4 separate regions of the Homo sapiens genome follow, and all the other regions are linked to region 2. Evidence: fine-mapped expression QTL. A gene starts in region 2. Each other region holds a variant in brackets. All regions are shown on one strand. Distances are from middle to middle. Region 1 overlaps DDX60L (DExD/H-box 60 like). Region 2 holds the start of DDX60L (DExD/H-box 60 like). Region 3 overlaps PALLD (palladin, cytoskeletal associated protein). Region 4 overlaps DDX60L (DExD/H-box 60 like).

Region 1 (5,103 bases), 110 kb before region 2:
AATGGGCAGCACCGCTGAGGGAAATAGGAACTCTCAAAGCATACTGAAGGCAATTTCAACCATCCAACTACAATACTGTTAGCAACATTCACTAAGGAAAAATAAATAGAAGCTGATTTTAAGGTAGAATTTTCATCGTTATCTTCATTGGTGCACAGAATGACCTTGAAAGGAGTGTCATGTAGCTAGTGTCTCCCTGTGCTCACAGGGAGAATAAAATGAAACAGCACAAACCTCTGGGCTCCAGAGAGAAGAAAAAAGTGGCAGAGGAGGAGGCAGAAGAGGAGAAAATGAAGAGAAGCAAAACAAACAAACAAAAACTAAGTCTCCGTGGTTCTGGGCACATTAGACAAATTAATCTGTACAGAATCAGAAGGAATCTGCAAATTCTGCCAGTGCATGGGTAAAATTAAACTGTGGAGCAAGTTGGAATAAAAATACAAGTTCAGGCCAGGCATGGTGGCTCATGCCTGTAATCCTAGCACTCTGGGAAGCTGAGGTGGGTGGATTGCTTGGGCCCAGGAGTTCAAGATCAGACTGGGCAATATGCTGAAAACCCATCTCTACTAAAAATATAAAAAATTAGCTGGGCATGCTGGCACGTGCGTGTAGTTCCAGGTATATGGGAGACTGAGGTGGGAGGATCACCTGAGCCCCGGAAGTTGAGGATGCAGTGAGCCGAGATAGTGCCACTGCACTCCAGCCTGGGCAAGAGAGTGAGACCCTGTCACAAATAAAAAGTGGGGAAAGGGAGGGGAGTCGAGGGAAGGGGAGGGGAGGGAAGGGAAGGGAAGATACAAAAGTTCAATGAGAAAAATACATAATGTAGAATTTGTAACTTTGAAGAAGTTGTTTGATCATCTGTGTTCTTTTCTATTTGTTTACTTTGGGTATCAAATAGCTTTGATATCTATATTCTTTTGGATAAACTTTTAAATAATTTAACAGTTCTTTTAAAATGTCAATATTTATAATGAACCTGAAATTGCATTAGCAGCTATTAAAATTTTGGTTAACAAAATTTTTAGATATCAACCCAAACTGTGCAAGAAGATTCACGATTTTTTAAAATTCCTTTAAACGTTACATATGCAAAAATACTTGAAGACCATATTTGACATGATGTGTGACTCTCTGACCCAGGGATAAAATAAGCCAGTGCACAGTGTCAATCTTTATTATTAAATATATTCAATGTGGAATTTATTTCTCATATTTCAAATTAAATCTAAAATCTTCCAGCACCCTAATATTTTATCCAGAACCTCCCAGAGGTTCTAATGCTTTGTGGCCCCCTTTGTAGACCACTGTCCCCAAAGATCCATGTGGTCTGGAGTAGAAAAGCACTATGAGGTCTATGATCAATTTTAGAAAAATGTGAGCCGCTTTCTTTTCCTCTTCCCACAGCAAACCTGTGGCAAACCTCATTTAAAAAAATGAGAAAAAACAGTGGTGTCTGAAATTTTAGACAAAGAAGCAGGGTTTCTCAGGCCAACTCCATAGAGCATAAATCACACTGGCCTCCAGGGCTTCATTCTCTTAGACAATGATGCTCATCAGTGGACATTTTTCAGTGTTTTGGGTTTGAGGTCCTATCAAGGCTTCACAGCAATGTAACCCCACTCTGTCTGTTAAACACATTTTGTACATAAGATGTATCCTTCACTTACCTGGTTGATAGTCTCTGGTCGAAGCAAATCATTATCTGTGTTCCCCGAAAGACAAACAAATGGTGAAATGGCTACTCTTCCTTTCTTGCAGCTCATCAAGTGAGACACGAGTTGGGAGTCTTCACATTCTTTACCTGTGAATTCTGACCATTTTGGACTAGGTCACGTTAGGTTTTAAAAATCAGCCCAAATGTTAACCCTTTCAAACTCACTGTAGGTCAAGCCACAGTAGGTGACATTCATCTCATCAGAATGAAAACTGATTGAGATATGGTGCATAAAGTCATTAACACAGCTTGGCACAGAGTAATCATTCAATCCATGTTGACTATTAACTTATTATCATTACTCTTTTTTATTACCTGTTATTTTTGCCTATGAACTCAGATATAACCTCAGAAACCTCCTAGACATGATGTTCAGGCAGCTCCTACCAGTGGATTTGGAGCTGGCATAAGAGATAAAACAGAGGTTCTGTCCAGC[G/A]AGTACCATCTCGCTGGACTTGGAAGGCACCAAGTCATGCACTCAGGTCTGGCTCGTTTTTCCCATCACGACACAATCACACACTCCCATCATCTTTTCTCTGCACTACTTTCCTTGCTTCCACCATTATTGTCTGCATTTGCTCATGCTGTGTCCTACATCAACAAATCTTGAGTAGCTACAATGCTTACCTCCCTGTCTTTTACTCCAACTATGACTATATTAGGAGACAGGGGAATATGGGAATCATTTTATGGCTCCACTCTTTACTCTTAGTCTAGCTTCTTTCCATTTATTCTCCCCTAAAAGTTTCCCGCTATAAAATTGAAATTTGGAAGCTTAGTTACTTTGCAATACCAGTTACTCCTCAATCAAGAACAAATAATTGAAGCAAAGAATGATATTTGCAACGTCTGCTAGAACTTTCCGTAATGATGGAAATATTCTACCTCTACTGTGTCCAAAGTAGAAGCCACTAGCACTGGAAAGTTAACGTGACTAAAGCTAAAGTGACTAAAGAATTAACTTTTCAATTGTTTTATTTTTAATCAACTTAATTTAAATAGTGACACGTAGCTAGCTGGTGGCTACCATGTTGGGTAGAATAGACTTACGCGATGTTGACTATGTGCTATGCACTGTTTTAAGAAACTTATAAACATTAATATACCTAATCCTCTAAAATTCTGTAAGCTAGGTAATATTTTTAGTCATTTCATTTTACAGATTAAAAAAATGAGACACAGAAAGATTAAGTAACTGGCATGAGACCTCATGGTTAATAAGTAGCAGAGCCAGGATTTAGACCTTGGCATTCTGCTGCCAGTGTTCACATTTGTAACCACTATGCAACTGCCCCTCAGGGGAAAAAAATGCCAGAAATTATGCCGTTTTCTTTTTCATCTGTCACTTTTTCTGATCCAGTTTTCCAACCTGAACAGATAGGCAACTTTCCATCAAAATGGTTCATGAATGACTTTTATTTTTTTTCCTCCATTGCCCAATTAATATTTGGTAATTATAAAGTTTTTTTTTAATTGGAAAACAGAGCCATTATCACACCCTACAATGGGCTAAATTGTTTTCTGGGGATAAAACACTTGGGTTAGTACAGCTGCCCTGTAATAAGCTCCTTTACCAGCTTTGAAGCATCCAATATCCAGAGGCTTTCTTAACCAAGATTGTTTACTCTTTAAATTGTTCCGGAATGGAACTAAAATCTGCTTACTGATTCTTGACAAAGGGAGTTGATGCTCTTTTTTCATGTTCACCGACTTGGAAGCAATCAGCAGGAAGGAGGCAAAATCCTTCATTACTGCCAGGTTATACTCATATAAAGCAGCTTTAAAATCCTCCGGGAGTTCGGCAAGGATCACCTATGGGCGAAATACATTTCAGAAAGATCTCTTTACTTTTATTTAAAAAATTAAACTGCTTGGTGATAAGATTGCAGCATAGTTCTGTAGATTGATGCTCATTCATCAAAACCCTTGATTACTTTACTCACCTGTGAGATTAAGGTAAAATTTCCTTTTGATTTCAACCAACATTTATAAATGTAAGTATCTTTCCTTAAAAAAGTTATTTTGACTCCACTTAGCCAAAACCACCAATTTAATAGAAACATGTCCTACACTGATCTTAAACTTAGGTATATTTCAGAGACTTGAGGGACATATTTAGAGAGCAAGTAACAAGTTAGTGTAGCAGTAGTAGCGTCAATGCTTTATTGAGTTCAGATTATGTGCCAACACTGTGCTTTGCTGCCCCAAGCACTTGTTATATGTTAGCTCAGTTAATCCTGAGAACAACCCTATGCAGTAAACATTTTCATCTACATTTTGTACATGAGGGAGCTAACCCTCACAGAGGTAAACTTGTTCCAAACCTGACAGGTAGTAGATAGAGAAGTAGCTGGTATTGCAAGCTAACTCAGCTTCCAAATTTCATGTTTAAAAACAAATTCTTTCAGAATTAGGACTAGAAGTTTCTTTAGTGTGAGTTAGAAATAGCTATGACATTAGAAATGTTCTTGGTTTTCTTCTGTTACAATTATGGGTTTTATTATTTATTTGATATTTTCCTTAATTTATTCATAACCTGTACTTTTCCAATAATTGAGGTATTTTATAAGGGTAAAGATAATACAATATGATCATATAAATCAAAATTTGGTAAAAAGGAAAGAAAAACAAGAAAGAGACTAAAATGGGGCACAAATTATATTCCAAGATTCCTAGGAGCAAGTGTGAATGACACATTTCAGAATGTCTATGAGATAAACAGCTATTTATTCTCAGCACTAATATCAGGTAAGAATTTTCCAGGGGGATTCTTACAAAAGGCAACCGTGTGGACATAATAAAGAATGCCCCTACCAACTCCTTACAGTGGATAGTATGACAATTTCCACAAGCCTACTTCGGACTCAGCTCCATCTGTGGATGGACCAAGACAAAAGAATAAATTGACAGGTGCAGCTCTACACTCTGGTCAAAGTGATATGGTCTCTTTACTGCTATGCCTTCCATGTCCTGCCATTGTGCCACTGCTGGACACCGTTCTAGGGCAGCACGTGCTGCTTACCATGTACACCTTGTGTTGTTTGCCACCTTCTCGAATGTGTATGCTATACAGCCCCATCAGGAGAGCAAGCTCTTGGAAGGTAGCAACTATGTTTCCCAATCATGATTTTTGCTATAGTTTACACATATTTATTGCTCAATAAATCTTTGCTAATTGACTAATATAGAGCAGTTATCCCAAATTATGGTACATAATATAAGAGGTACATGAGATGATTTAGTGTGACACACAGAACATTGAGTAATTATACATCAGTTTTAAAAAATAAAAAGTGGGCTGGGCATGGTGGCTCATGCCTGTAATCCCACCACTTTGGGAAGCCAAGGCGGGCGCATCACTTGAGGTCAGGAGTTTAAAACCAACC
Region 2 (5,103 bases):
AAAAGTGATAGGACAAAAAAAAAAGAAAAAAAACACCTTGCTCAACAAAGACTCATAAAGAATTCTCAGTTAAACAGAAGGACTTAGCCTTGCTGCAAGTATTAGGTGGAGGTGTTACCCTCCCAGGCCAGACTATCATTTCAAATGAACTTAAGACAGATTATGCTAATTTGAGAGGGAATTAGGATGAAAATAGAAACTCTCTGGGTGTAATTAACGGCATAGGGAACTAACTAGAGCATAAGAAGCTGGATACATTTCTTAGAGAATTGTATTTCCAAATAAACTATGAGCTGCCTTAAAAATGGTTACATCAGTAAAACAAGCAGCAGGTTATAAAAAAGGGTGATATCAGTAAATCAACCAGCAGGTCTCCATACTTACAAAGCAGAAAATGAGCCTGCAGCAGGGAAAACCACAGAGATTTCCACCCACATCAACATAGCCGTGGATGATAATTAACATGGGTATTTTATTAAAAGCCATAAAGCTAATCCTGAGAAGAATTTTTAAAAATATATAATTCATATTAGAAGTATTTCTTTCACAGGGAGTCGTCGGAGTCTGTCTAAAGTAGATAAAACAAAAGACTGATTTGTAAGCATATAATTTATAAGCAACCAAGAAAGAAATGTATATCTTTGGAGTGGTAACGCCTCAGGAGAACTAAAACTGTGAGACTAAGTATGAAGGGGAAAGTAGTAGAGAAGGGCATTTAATTTTTGTTTTATGTCTTTCTCTTCTGCTTCAAATAAAACTGATCAATTATGACCCAGCATACCATGGGGTATCATACAGCAATTACTAAGTAAGACTGACAGGTACCAATAAATCATGAACCAAGAAAAGCATACCAGTATGACAGCCAAAATATCTTTTAAAGTGTATGGATCTAGAGATAGACAGATGATGGATCGATGGATGGACGGATGGTTGGATGGCTGGATGATGGATGGATGGATGGATGGATGGATGGATGGATGGATGGATAGAGAGATAGGAGCTATAGACAAAAACTTGTCTCTTTGTAGAGTATCAGGAAGGATTCACACTAAACTATCCCCAATATCTTTGGGATAGAAGGCGAAGAGCCTTGGAAGCATAACTCACCCTCATTTATTTTAGTACCCTCAACTCTCAGCACCTGAGTTCCACCAAACTTCAAACTGCAAATCTTAGATTGAATGGTATGTTACTGTTTTCAGGAGAACACTCGAAATCATGAAGGTCTGTATGTCGTTGATGTTATGGTTTGGACTTCTTATTGTGTCTTTAAAGGACTTGCTTCTGTTTGGTTCTGACCGCTTTTTCTAGCAGTCATTAGGAGCTTTCATAATCCTTAAGGCCCCATCACGGATGATGTCAGCTTCTTTGATTATGGAAAACCTTGAGAAGTTTATTATAAATTTATCAATGTAACTTTGTAAACAAAAGAGAAGCGGGAAAAAAGAACAAAGTACCTTTCCAGAGAAATAGTAAAACCTTATTTCCGCTATTAAGAGCTTAAATCCGGCCGGGCGCGGTGGCTCACGCCTGTAATCCCAGCACTTTGGGCGGCCTAGGCGGGCGGGTCACGAGGTCAGGAGATCGAGACCATCCTGGCCTAACATGGTGAAACCCCGTCTCTACTAAAAATAAAAAATAAAAAATAAAAAAAAATTAGCCGGGCGTGGTGGCGGGTGCCTGTAGTCCCAGCTACTCGGGAGGTTGAGGCAGGAGAATAGCGTGAACCCGGAAGGTGGAGGTTGCAGTGAGCAGAGATAACGCCACTGCACTCCAGCCTGGGCGACAGAGCGAGACTGACTCAAAAAAAAAAAAAAAAAAAAAGCTTAAATACAAGACGGAAAAAAGGGAAGCGGCTTGCTGCCTGTCAATGTCCAGGTTCGAATGGCTGTGCTCAGATGTGGTGACCCTTACTTTCTCCTCAGCACCCCAGATCCCCAGGCCCCCTCGGGTGCAGAGGACCCGTTAAATGCCTGAGCACTCTCCTCTCTCACGGTGGTTGTCCCTCTTCCCTACCTCTCCGCGAAGCTGCCGCCCGAGCCCAGTGGGCGCCCCAGCTTCCCTCGCCCGGCGCGCACGAAGCCACCAGGCCACCTCCCCGCCCGGTCCATCTGGATGTTGAAGGAATCCTAGAACCCCCGCGGGACAGCTCCGCTCCAGGGTCCCTAGCGACACCCGACGTCACCCGCAATCCTCACCCCGGCCGCCGAACCTGCTAGGTCCAAAGAGCTTCGGAGCTGCACGCCCCGCGGGGAGGAGGTGGAGCAGAGGAGACCGAGCGCAGAGCCTGGCGTCGGACTGGGCGCTCTGAGCCACACAGCAGCCAGCGCCTGAGTTTTTATCTAGGGAGTTAGTTTCGGTTTCTTTTCTCCACCGCGAGGCCTTTTCGATTTCCGCAGTTTTCTGGAGGTAGAATATAGGTCTGCATTGGTTTACTCTGAGAATCTTAGGGAAGTAATAGTAGAAGCGATGATATGCTATCTGGGACATGCATGTAATTGTAAAGGGAAAGAAAGCAGAGAAATCTGGGACTCTAAACAAGGAATTGAGGCTGAGAGTAAATGCAGCACGCTAAGCACTATGAAAGTCTGCGGTGAGGTGTGGCGTTTTTCTTTTCTGGCAAGGTACTGGACAGGCAAAAATGGAGTAAAAAAGGATTAGGGGCTTTGAGTTTCTGTCCTAAGAAGTTCATTTTATGAAAAATTTCCAATAGTATAACTGTCCAGTGTGAACATTTGAAAGACCAATCATCTATCACAGAGAATTTAAATTGAGAAGAAGAATGCTCTTTAGTTTTGTCATCAAGCTCATTAATGTTTGAAATTCGAGTTTCAACCCCAGCCCATCATGGTCTTTAGTGCTCCAGACGCTTAATTCCATGACGTTATGCATGTGCAGAATATATTGAGATTCAAGGTGGTGGTGAGGGTGCCCCAGTAACGGCATGGGGTAATAAATGGAGAGAAATCGAAACCGGAAGTTCTGTCTTCAAGAAAAGGAAAGGGTGGAAGTGACTTGTTCACAATAGAAAGAGCCCAGAAGAACAAAGTTTTTTCTCAGACTCTGGAATATAAAGTGGCTTCGAAAAGGAGGTGAAAACATTGCTCACTTCTGTCAGGATTTTTCTTTAATTTTATGTTTGGTTGAAAATAGTTATGATTCTCTTTCTCAATGAGGATGACATTGAGAAAGAACCTGAAATGACTCATGATTAAGTCATGAGTTCATCTCAGATGAATTCCTCTCTAGCATCTGATACTGGACCTTTGTATCATAAGAATGCATTTGCTAGCAGCAGAAAATTGGGCTTTGCTGTAAAAGCATTCATTGAGCTTTTTATGTGCCAGGCAATAGGCTAAGCCCTTAACATGTATTATCACATTAAATCTCACAGAAATCCCATGAGCAACTTTACTGTTGCTATTTTATGGATGAGGTAAATAAGGCTTAGAGAATTCAATTACTTGTCGATGACCCTACAGGTAGTTAATGGTAGCCAAGACTTCAAAATTTAATTCCAAAGATAATATCTACAATATTCTCTGTATATATTATCTCATTCCAGTTCTTTTAAATACTACAGTGTCATTATTCCTCCCCCAAAGCACATACAATTTAATGGGGATTTCCTCTTTTGGTTGTAGAAGTGGGCCCTACATGTTCTTAATATAATTGACTGTCTGCTGTTGTTTTTCTCTCTTAAAGATATAGATGTATCAGGTGGGGATTCCCTAGATGTTAACTCCACACATCCCACTTCCCACCGCAAAGTATATGTACAATGCACATAAGCAGACTCTACTCCAAATCAATATCCAGTTCTCTTCCACTTTAATAATATGTTACCATAACTCCAGCCTGGACATTATCCAGAAACTTGAAAATCATAAACTCCATTTCCACTTTTTAGAGACTTCCCCCTTGCCTCAATCTCTCAGTCTCCTTAGGAGCCCCACTCTTTCACCTCCCCAGGATCAACTCTGTGAACAGGCACTGAACCTTCCTCTCACTAACATTCTCAACTGCTTCATCCACTCTCTTTCCTCTGCACCTTCACTGCAACTTGATCACCTCAATCTAGTAAACCATTTTTTGCCCTTACCAGGACATTGAAGGAAATTGTCTAATATTTTTCACCTCAGATTTACTGTTTATGACTATAGGTTCCTGATCTTTTTTACAGTGGCCCTTAAAACCCTACAGCATCTTGCTGTTCTCTTCAAGTCCACTAAGAATATATCTGTTTTAAAGAGACTCCTTTTAACTGTCTGACACCTCCATCTAGTCCAAGAAGCCCATGACATGCTCCACATACAATATAACCACTCCCTTTTGAGTTGGTTACCTCCAGCTTCCTCAGGAATCTCACTCCATTCCTATATTGTTAACCTCTCTCTATTTACAGCTGTGGTAGACTGAATAATGGTCTCCCAAAGACATCTATGTCCTAATCCTTGTACCTATAAATATGTCATCTTCTGTTGCAAAAAGAACTTTGCAGATATTCCTAAGAATCTTGAGATGGGGAAATTACCCTGGATTATCTGGGGACCTGATATAATCAGAAGGGTCCTTATAAGAGGGAAGGACTATTATCAAAAAGGAACCAGGACAAGGATAATGTGGGAAATTATCAGGATTTCAAGACTGCAAAGGATGGTAAAAGTAAGAGACTCACTGCTGGGAAAACGTACTCTGGAGAAAAAGTCATGAGTACAGCTGGACAACCTTTTGCTAGTGCTTCAAAAAGATCTCTGTGACATACACAGGAAATCCAAAAGATTTCTGAGAATATCAGCAGAAACACTGCCAGCTTGAACTGAAAGGTACAGAGAGAGAATAAAATGAAAGACGGTTATAGGACTCCCAAAATTCCATAAGCAATAAACAGTCTGATAAAACTATTCAGCCCCAAACTTGTGCTATCTTTCATGAAGGATGACTCTGAGGGCAGAGCCTAGAGACACAAATGGTTATTCACAGGCCTTAAAACCTATGGAGTTAGCCTTGCAGATTTTTGAAATTTCTTGGCTTTTTCTCCTTCCATTTTCTCCCTTTGTGAACAGGAATATCTGTAACTGGTACCCTATTCCTGTTCCA
Region 3 (5,103 bases), 25 kb after region 2:
GAGCATGTCCCAGAGAAATGTCGCAGCAGGTTCTGGGAGGCTGAAAGCAAATCAGTCATCAGAACATTTCCTGCCTCGTGCCTTTGTTCACATGTGTGTCAAATCCTATCCAGGGCTCAAACCACATTTCAAACACCCGGTATTTCTTAGCTTTTCTCCATCAGCTGCTGTAACCCAGTGTGCTAAGCATTTGCCATACAAAGACGCCAGTCACAGCTCCTGCTTCCATTGGGCTCACAGTTGAATGAGGAAAGCATTCTCTAAACAAATACTTGTAATTTAATATGATGACTGCTGTGAGAAACGCAATGCAAAGTAACATGCTTGGAAGAAGAAGCAAATTATATTGATTGGGGAACTGTTAGAAAGCACCAAAAAGTGGTAAAATTTAAGAAAGTTTTCAAGGATGAACCGGAGTTTGAAAAACAGAAAGAGGGCTGGATGCAGTGGCTCATGCCTGTAATCCCAGCACTTTGGGAGGCCAAGGCGGGTGGATGACAAGGTCAAGAGATCGAGACCATCCTGCTAACAAGGGGAAACCCTGTCTCTACTAAAAATACAAAAATTAGCCGGGCATGGTGGTGGGCGCCTGTAGTCCCAGCTACTCAGGAGGCTGAGGCAAGAGAATGGTGTGAACCTGGGAGGCGGAGGTTGCAGTGAGCCAAGATGGAGCCACTGCACTCCAGCCTGGGCAACAGAGCGAGACTCCATCTCAAAAAAAAAAAAAAAGAAAAAGAAAAAGAGAAAGGAAGCACATTTTAAGCAAAAGGAGCAGCAAGTGCAAAGGTGTGAAAACCAGAAAGAATCTGAATTGTTTGAGGAATGGTGAGTGGGCCAGGGAGGCCTGAGTGCATGTGTGTTGGTGATGACAGAGGGTGAGGCTGGAGCATTTCCATCAGCTCAGGCTGTCCACGGGTATGTTTAACCTGCACATCGTGCTTTGGAACTTTTCTCATCAGCCGGGGAGCATCATAGGAAAAAAATAAAAACCAAAAGAGTGACGTGACACAATTTGTACCTATGATCTCTCTTACCATTTTTATCCCTTACTGCAATTTGTTGAAACTATTTTAATAGAAATTATCACGCTCCTCCTTGTAACTGAGTTATTTTTTACTCTTGTCTAATCCCTCCTACTGGATTGTAAGATCATTTAAGGAGAATAACTACGCCTGCCTCATCTTTGTCCTCCTTGAAGCTTCTCTTGCACAACTAAGCAGTTGTTCCGTTGATTTCATGTTCAACTTACTATTCCAGGAAAGGGAAGTAGAAGAAAGGAAGCATGACTGTAAGATGGGCGAGGCCAAGGAAGAGTCATTTCCTCCATGGTGAAGAACATAATGCTACGCAACTTCAAGCAAATTAAAAAACAGTTGTGGTTGGCCAGGCATGGTGGCTCACACCTGTAATCCCAGCATTTTGGGAGGCTAAGGTGGGCAGATCACAAGGTCAGGAGTTCAAGACCAGCCTGGCCAATATGGTGAAACCCTGTCTCTACTAAAAATACAAAAATCAGCTGGGAGTGGTGGCAGGCACCTGTAGCCCCAGCTACTCGGGAGACTGAGGAAGGAGAATCTCTTGAACCCGGCAGGTGGATCTTGCAGTGAACTGAGATCATGCCACTGCACTCCAGCCTGGGCGACAAAGCAAGACTCCAACTCAAAAAAAAAAAAAAAATGGCTGTGGCTAATGAGCGTTTTAGGGAAAATGACAATTAAGCTAAACTGCTAAAGCTGGAGATGATGGATAAGACAAGGATGAGAAAAAGAAGAAGACAGAAGAATTTCTAGGAAATTCAGATTCCTTCTGAGAAAAGTGAGGAGGCAGGGGACAGGACAATTTAAAGATGCCAAAGAATCCTTTATTCTTCAAAATTTCAAAATCTTTCAATGCTACTTACTAAAGTAGAACCACTTTAATGGCGTTGGTGTTTACCTCATTTCCTCTTCACTCATTAACAGCAGTATTAGTGGGTCTTTTTAGTCTATTTCATCTTCTGTGTCTATCACACCGGCATAGAATTACCAAGAGCACTGTTTGACAGAAAACATGAAATCTCAGGCAAATGATGGAGATGTTTGTGATTGTGTTTCATTCCTTTTGATTTTGACCTTTTCATTTTGGAGTGCTGACTGACATGGAAATCTCTGAAGCACAATTTTCCAGTGAACTTGGCCCGCTTGGAAACCGCCCTTGTTCATCCTCATTGAATGAGCATTTTCCCTAGACCACGTGCATGTTCCCGCGGCAATAACTGGCTTGCAAATTAAGCCTGAACC[A/G]GATATGCCATAGAACTATTATTTTCTTTTTCAATGTGCAAGCAGTTTTAAAGCTACACCTAATCCTGACTACTGGATCCTGTCAGATGGCGCCTCTTTAAAACCAAAATATGAGTTAATAAGCAGGTGAGATAATCTGCCTCCAGCAAACACTCCCTACATTAAGAATTGAAAATGTTTTCATCATTCAGAAGTTTGCTTTAAGCTTTGTTATATAATGCTCCTTGTGAAGTTTTAAAATGTATCATATTATGTTCATTTGGAACTAAAAAGCAATTGAATTAATAGCAGAACTCTGATTTCTGATCCACAGTTTTGTTAGTTTGATACATTGCTTAGGATTCTCAATTATGAAAACTACAATGGTAAGATGGTAAAGTGCATAGAACATGAGCTCTGGAGTTATTCCCTGGGCTTAAACCTTGGTTCTCCCACTCAGATTTTCTGCCTCCATTTCCTCCTTTCTAAACCAGAGGCTGCTGTGAGGGTTTTAAATGAAATAATCTACATGATGACTCTGGGCACAATGCCCACCGCAGGGTAAGCAGTCCATTATTAGCCATTATCATTATCAATCATCGTGATCATTAATTGCCTTTATATGTGTTATATGAAGTCATTAGGTAGCTAATGTTCTATAGAAGGGGTTGGCAATTTTTTCCTGTAAAAGTGCAGGTAAATATTTTAGACTTCATGTGCCATATAGTCTCTGTTGCAACTACTCAACTCTGACATTGGTTCAAAAAAACAAAGACAATCTCTACATTCAAACTCCTACCCATGAATTCCAACCCAGCATATATGTCAAAGGCCACCTATTCCTTGACCATATTTTCAATGGCCTTGCCCACTTCCCTCCCATTTTACCTGCATGTCAAACTGGGATCATCTATCTCTGTACCTTCACCTGGATGGCTGAGCTCTGGTGGAGAGAATTGCACAATCACACAGATTAATGACACTATAAATACATCACATCTAACTTCAACCAGGCCCTCACCTCTACCCATAAATCCTTCTTACAAAACTTCCTTCCCCCTTTTTCTACAACAGCTATTTCAAATCATCTTCTGTCCTCATAAACCTCCAATGCACAGAAGTCTCAGTTTGGGAACTCTCCTTTCTTTCTATTACAAATTTTGCAGAGAATCTCATGTTTCTCTCTCTCTCCCTTTCTCTCTTACCGCCCCCCATGCCCCAACACACATACACCCTTTGTTACTTCTCTCCTTTAACAATGAAAGAACTGCCCCCTTCCTACTGGAAGCTGAACACCTCATACTCCGTTTGTCCTATAATAACTCATTTCTTCTTACATCTTTTGAGAGCTGACCTATAAATCATCCCCGCTTTTTTACATTTATTTTCAGCTTCTCCCTTCTTACTGCCTAATTTGGTTTGTATAAAACATGTTACAGCGCTCTATCCTAAAAATGAACAAACCTCACCAGAGTCTATACTTTTGTTCAACTACTACCTTCTGTCTCTCCTTCTTTCTATGATCTTTTCAAAACAAACCACCACACCTGTAATATTTTCTTTCTTTCCTTCTTTCCTTTCCTTCCATGTAGCAATCTGGCTTATATTTCTGTTGCATACACCGAAAGTGCTGTTGCAATGGTGCTAAATATTCCCAAGTTGCTAAAATCAAAAATCAAAAGGACATGTACTGCTTCCTGAGATATTTTCTTTCCCAGCTTCCACGATATCTAGCTTTTCTTGCTTCCCTGTGATTATTCGAAGGATTCTATCTTCTCCTTCTTTTTTCCTCGATGACCTTATGCATTCCCATGTCTTAAAGTGCCACCCATAGGCTAATAATCCCCAATCCAGCTCTGTTCTCCCTTCTCCTGGGCTCTAGATCAGCATCTCAAATCTCCTAGACATCAACACCAGAGTTACCAAAGGTCCCTCAACTGCAAAAGGCTCAAATCAAAATCAAGCTTAAAAAATAAAATAAAATAAAATAAAAAAACTTGTTCCTCCACTTGTAGCATGTAAGTTAATGGTACCAGTCATCTGGTTGTTGAGGTGAGAAACCTGTAACCCTGCCTCTGCATCACCTCTGCCTTTAATCAATTACCAAGTTCTTTCCTTTCTATCATCTATCTTATGGACCCTGGACCCACTGCTTCCCTGAATCACCAGCTCTCACTTCAGAGTCCAAGAAGGACACATCTAATCGCTGTCTAGGCCAAGTGCCAAGACTTGTGCCCAGTCTCCAAGCGGCTGGGAAAGAAAATACTTGGAGATTTCACATCCCATTACAAGTGAGTTCAGTTTCTCACTGAGCCTCAGAATATGAGGAATTCTCCAAAATGAAGACGTCCAGATGACAGCAACACCAAACGTGAAACCATGATAAATGTGTGCACCCCCTGGATTACTGCACAAGCCTTCTCACGGACCGCCCTACTGTCAGTCTTGTCTTCCTCTTTCCCTACCTCTGTCCCGGATCCAGACTGCAATCAGTTATCTCTCAAAAATGTAAGTCTGGTGATGTTTCTCAAGGACTTAACACTCTTCCTTGCCTACTGACTACCCATAACATAAAATGCAAGTTCTCTGCATGGCTCCAGGCCCTCTCTGACCTAACTCCTGCTTTCTAGCCTTATCTCTGGTTATTTTCCCATCTCCAGATAGATTTCTGTTTAGCTGAAATGCTTAGTAGAATTACCTGAGTCTGCCATGTGCTCTCTGGGATCCAAGTCTTAAAATACATATTTGCCAGTATCCTCTTCACCTCCCCGCTCTTCCTCATCCCTCACACATCATTCTTTCAGCTTTCTCTCTTTCACAAAGGTTTCCTGATCCTGACCTTGCT
Region 4 (5,103 bases), 64 kb before region 2:
AAGAATAAAGAAAGGATCCTAAAAGCAGCAAGAGAAAAGAAACAAATAACACAATGGTGCTCCTATATGTCTGGCAGCAGACTTCTCAGTGGAAACCTCACAGGCCAGAAGAGAGTGGCATGACATAAAGGGCTGAAGGAAAAAATCTTTTATCATGGGATAGTATATCCAGTGAAAATATCCTTCAGACATGAAGGAGAAATAAAGACTTCCTCAGACAAAAGCTAAGAGATTTCAGCAACACCTGTCCTACAAGAAGTGCTAAAGGGAGTTCTTCAGTGGGAAAGAAAAGGATGTTAATGAGCATTAAGAAACCACCTGAAGGTAAAAAAACTTACTAGTAAGTACACAGAAAAACACAGAATATTATAACATTGTAATTGTGATATGAGTATATCTTCAGTAGAAAGACAAAACAATGAACCTATCACAAATTACAGCCACAGCAACTTTTCAAGACAGACAATACAATAAGATATTAATAGAAACAACAAAAAGTCAAAAAACTAAAACTAGAGCTACCTTATGATCCAGCAATACCACTGCTACATATATACTTAAAAAAAAGGAAATCAGTATATCAAAGAGGTATCCGGACTCTCATGTTTATTGCAGCGCCATTCACAATAGCCAAGATTTGGAAGAAACCTAAGTGCCCATCAACAAATTAATGAATAAAGAAAATGTGGCACTTAAAAACAGTGGAATACCATTCAGCCATAAAAAAAAATAAGATCCTATCGTTTGCAACAACATAGATGGAATTGGATGTCACTATGTTAAGTGAAATAAGCCAGGCACAGAAAGAAAAACTTCACGTGTTCTAACTTATCTGTGGGAGCTAAAAATTAAAACAATGGAATGCATGGAGACAGAGAGTAGAGTGATGGTTACCAGAGGCTAGCAAAGACAGTGGGTTGGGTGGAAGAGGGAATGGTTAATGAGCACAAAAAAATAGATAGAATAAATAAGATCTAGTATGTGATAGCACAACAGAGGGATTATAGCTAACAGTAATTTATTGTATATTTTAAAATAACTAAAAGAGTAGAATTGGATTGTGCTTAAGGTAATGGATACATACCTCATTTAGTCTGATGTGGTTATTATGCTTGAGGTAATGGATACATAATTACCATTGTGTATCCATTAAAGGATAAATGCTTGAGGTAGTGGATACATACCTCATTTAGTCTGACGTGGTTATTATGCATTGCATGTCTGTATCAAAATATCTCATGTGCCCCATATATACAGCTACTTTAGATGCCCACAAAATTAAAAATAAAAAATGTATTAAATTTAAAAAATCAATGAATAAAATAAAAGAATCAGTAAAGAAAGAAAAAGATTATCTATACATGCTGCAGTTCTATGAAGATTGAGTCCCTTTCCAGTTGCGATATACACTAAAAATTCCACTAACAGGACAAATACACTTTTATACTTACAATATCTGTCGTTAGCGCAGCACAGGGATGAAAATGATCAAAATAAACATCATCATGTTTTACTGAACATATATGCTTCTCTAAATCATTGTATCTCTCTCCACAGAGCACTAGATACGAAGAGCAAGAATATCCAAATTAATGGACATACGATTATTAGAATATGGATTTAAAACACAAAAATCCCTATAAAAAGCTTTGTAGTAAAATATAAAAATATATAGTAAAACATAAAAAAAATAAGCTTACCAAGTCTAACTTCATATGATTGATTTTTATATGAATGGTCTTGGAGAAAGTTGAGACATTTGTCAGCCTGTTTTTCAGAAATACATTTCTCTTCCATAATCTTGTCTGCCTGTTTCCAGTACTGTTTTACTGATTGCAGCCACCTTACAGAATAAACATGCATATAATTTAAATAAAATATAGAAGTATTTATCAAGAACTTGGATATTTTAAACAAAGAAAATTTCACAAGTTTAAAAATTTAGAGCATGCCCTCTCAATTTAAACCACCTGAGTTGACTTCAGAGCTGTGGACTTTGGGCAAATTCCTCAGCTTCTCTATGCCTCCCTTTCTCCATCATAACATAGAAGATAACGAAAGTATCTTTCTCATAAGGGTGTTGCGTGGCTTGAATGAGTTAGCGTGCCTGCCACATAGAAAGCACTGTGTGCTTGTTACCAGTGCTGCTGTTACTGCCATCGTCGCTGTTACCAGGAAAAATCAAGTCTGGTAACAAAACAATACTTGACGTTCATATAATGCTTTGTTGTTCTTATGATTGTCATCTGCAAGGTCAATGACTGTGTCCCAGTTATTTCCATTTTAGCTTTAAT[T/C]ATTGGATAAGGACAAAGAAAGGGGGATACAATTCTCTCTCTTACTTCAGATGACATTTACTTGAAAATTTTTAGAAATTGTCCTGCACAATTTCAGATCTGGCTATGGGAGACCTTGATTTTCTTTGGAGAAGATGTTTTCCTTCTCTAACTTCCAGGAAATATATCTTCAAAAAAATTTGAGAAAGCCAGACATGGTAATGTACACCTGTGGTCCCAGCTACTCAGGAGGCTGAGGTGGGAGGATTCCTTCAGCCCAGGAGTTTAAGGCCAGCCTGGGCAACAAAGCAAGACCACTGACGTTTCAAAGATTGGGTAATAAATTTATTTGAAAGTTATCATAGAAAAAACCTTAAAGACTTCAGACCATATAGACAGTATATAATTCAACCACTGAATATATAACAACCACTCTTTTTACCTATACCTACTTGGTGAGAAGATTTGGGTTATTTATGGTAGCTGAAAGAACCAAAAAGGGACATCGAATAATGACAAGGAGGAGCTCCCAAAATTTTGCTCCAACTTCTCTGCCAAGATAATGGACCTAGTAAAGAAAAAAAAATCAGTTGAAAAGTTGATGTCAAAATCGTAAATAAAAAATAGAAGCATAAAATCATCATGCATATTTTTCCAGTTTCCTATAAATGACCTAACCTAAATAAAGTGAATGGTGATAAATTCAGACAATAGACATCATGACACTTAACTGTCTCCAATCTCCATATCGAAACCATTATTAATTCCTACAGATTCCAATTCCAAAAATCTATTTTGAAGCTATGTTTTTCTCTCCATTTTTTGTTGTCATTGAAGCCACCATCACCTGGCTTTCTACAACAGCCTTCTGATTTTTCTCTTAGCTTCCACTCTTTCTCTATACTTTCTTCACATCATAGCCCTAATGGTATTATTAAACAAAAATCAAATTAGGCTACATACCTAATTAAATCCCTACACTGTCCTCCCAATGCATTTACAGTAAACCACAAGCTGCTTAACTGGAAGTGTAACTTCCTGCATGGTCTGGCTTCTTCCCACCTTTCCAACCCCATCTCAGGCCACTTTCCCCGCCATGCACTCTGCTCCCAACATACTGGCCTTCTTTTCATACCTTGAACACACGTGTTCCACCTGAGGGCCTTCACATATACGACCCTGCTACTTAAAATCCTCATCCACCTCTTAGCTGACCATTCCTGCTTATCCCTGCAAAGCCCAGCTGAAGGTCATTGCCTCAGAAACACCTTCCCTGAGTACCTGCTCCAAAGTTGTTGTTCTTACTTCCCATTTTGCTATTATCTTGGTGAAAACTAACTGATTTTTTTTTCTTCAGAGTTTGTATCACAATGTTTACTTATATTTTCATTGGTACATTTACTTATTTAATTGCTCTCCCCTTCACTAAACCACAAGGTCAGTACTGGCATATCAGGGAGAAAGCACAGTGTCTAGCACAGAGTAGGTACTCAATTAATATCTGTTGAATGAATGAATCAATCCTCTTTGGTTCAATAATGCAAATTAAGACTTAGAGAGGAGGTCCAAATTTTGGTCTTAAACAGAATACATCGTGACAATTGGGTCTCAGCTGGAAAGACTTACTAATCAAGGCTAGTAATAAATACATAAAGAAGAATATTTTCATATCCCTTCTGACTTTGATCTAGTCAGATAATCGCCCACTTTACCAAATGCTAATCTTATATTTTGTATCAGCAGGCAATTTCTCTGAACTTTCTAGAATAAACAATTTTTAAAGCCTTCTTACAATCAAGTTTTGTGCATGTATAAATCAGAAAACCAAAGTTACCCACATTTTGTTTTTTGTTTTGAGATGGAGTTTCGTTATTGTTGCCCAGGCTGAAGTGCAGTGGTGTGATCTTGGCTCACTGCAACCTCTGCCTCCCGGGTTCAAGTGATTTTCCTGCCTCAGTCTCCCGAATAGCTGAGATTACGGGAGCATGCCACCATGCCTGGATAGTTTTTGTATTTGTAGTAGAGACGGGGTTTCACCATGTTGGTCAGGCTGGTCTCGAACTCCTGACCTCAGGTGATCCACCCGCCTCAGCCTCCCAAAGTACTGGGTTTACAGGCATGAGCCACCACACCCGGCCTCATTACCCATGTTTTAACATTATTGTGCTTAGGCATTTTGAGATGAGACCACAATCCAAGGTTCTAGATCATAAAGATCAAGGTTTTTGTTTTGTTTTGTTTTCCCTTAAAACGGGAATGTTCAAAGTCAGCAACACACAATACAGCCTGATGCATAAAAGGAAACAGACTACTTTCAGCACAAAGAAAGCAGAATGACAGCATGTCTACCAACTCTCAACTTCACACAAAAAAGGAGTAGATTCACTACATAGGTTTATCACCTAGTTTTCCTTTAAGTTGAAAATTCCTTGAAGCAACAAAATACAAAGCTTGAATTCTATTTACAGTTCTTTCCATTCATTTTGATAATAACATAGCTATGTCCTTCCAGATCTACACCATTCGCCACCTTCCTCTCTGGCCAATGAGTCTGACCTTGGGAATTGGCTCACCCAGCCTCCTTAGCCCTCTAGCTTCTACTGGGTTTGGCCAGTGGGAAGCCTAGGCAAGAAATGGGAAGGAGAGAAGACAGTGAGGTCAAGGTCTTTATTCTTTTGCTCTCTCTCCCTAAGAGGTCAACCTTGGCCAGCTGCATTTCTTCACCAAGGTCACTGTTCTTCTCAAAGAGACATATCTATAGAATCTCTCTTCTGTTAAGGTTCATAATGCTTCCCCCTCCCTTCATCCTTACAGGGTTGAAAGGCTTGTA

Evidence for each region.
Region 1: its variant is fine-mapped to the expression of DDX60L in whole blood (INTERVAL, PIP 0.99).
Region 3: its variant is fine-mapped to the expression of DDX60L in whole blood (TOPMed, PIP above 0.99).
Region 4: its variant is fine-mapped to the expression of DDX60L in whole blood (TOPMed, PIP above 0.99).

The regions. Positions count from the first base shown.
Region 1 is chr4:168,371,996-168,377,098 of GRCh38, forward strand. It overlaps DDX60L (DExD/H-box 60 like), which reads right to left. Exons shown (of 38, transcript NM_001012967.3): 34 at 3,382-3,529; 35 at 1,671-1,813. Among named protein-coding and RNA genes, the nearest start is that of DDX60, 56 kb to the left of the region's middle. RefSeq lists an enhancer at 4,587-4,756. The variant G/A (reference allele first, on the strand shown) is at 2,154.
Region 2 is chr4:168,478,176-168,483,278 of GRCh38, forward strand. DDX60L (DExD/H-box 60 like) reads right to left here and starts at 2,317. Exons shown (of 38, transcript NM_001012967.3): 1 at 2,202-2,317. RefSeq lists an enhancer at 2,336-2,575.
Region 3 is chr4:168,502,933-168,508,035 of GRCh38, forward strand. All of the region lies in intron 1 of PALLD (palladin, cytoskeletal associated protein), which reads left to right. The region is part of intron 1 of LOC107986198 (a long non-coding RNA gene); the gene reads right to left. Among named protein-coding and RNA genes, the nearest start is that of PALLD, 8.4 kb to the left of the region's middle. The variant A/G (reference allele first, on the strand shown) is at 2,280.
Region 4 is chr4:168,413,957-168,419,059 of GRCh38, forward strand. DDX60L (DExD/H-box 60 like) reads right to left here. Exons shown (of 38, transcript NM_001012967.3): 20 at 2,726-2,841; 21 at 1,701-1,843; 22 at 1,452-1,561. Among named protein-coding and RNA genes, the nearest start is that of DDX60L, 64 kb to the right of the region's middle. The variant T/C (reference allele first, on the strand shown) is at 2,295.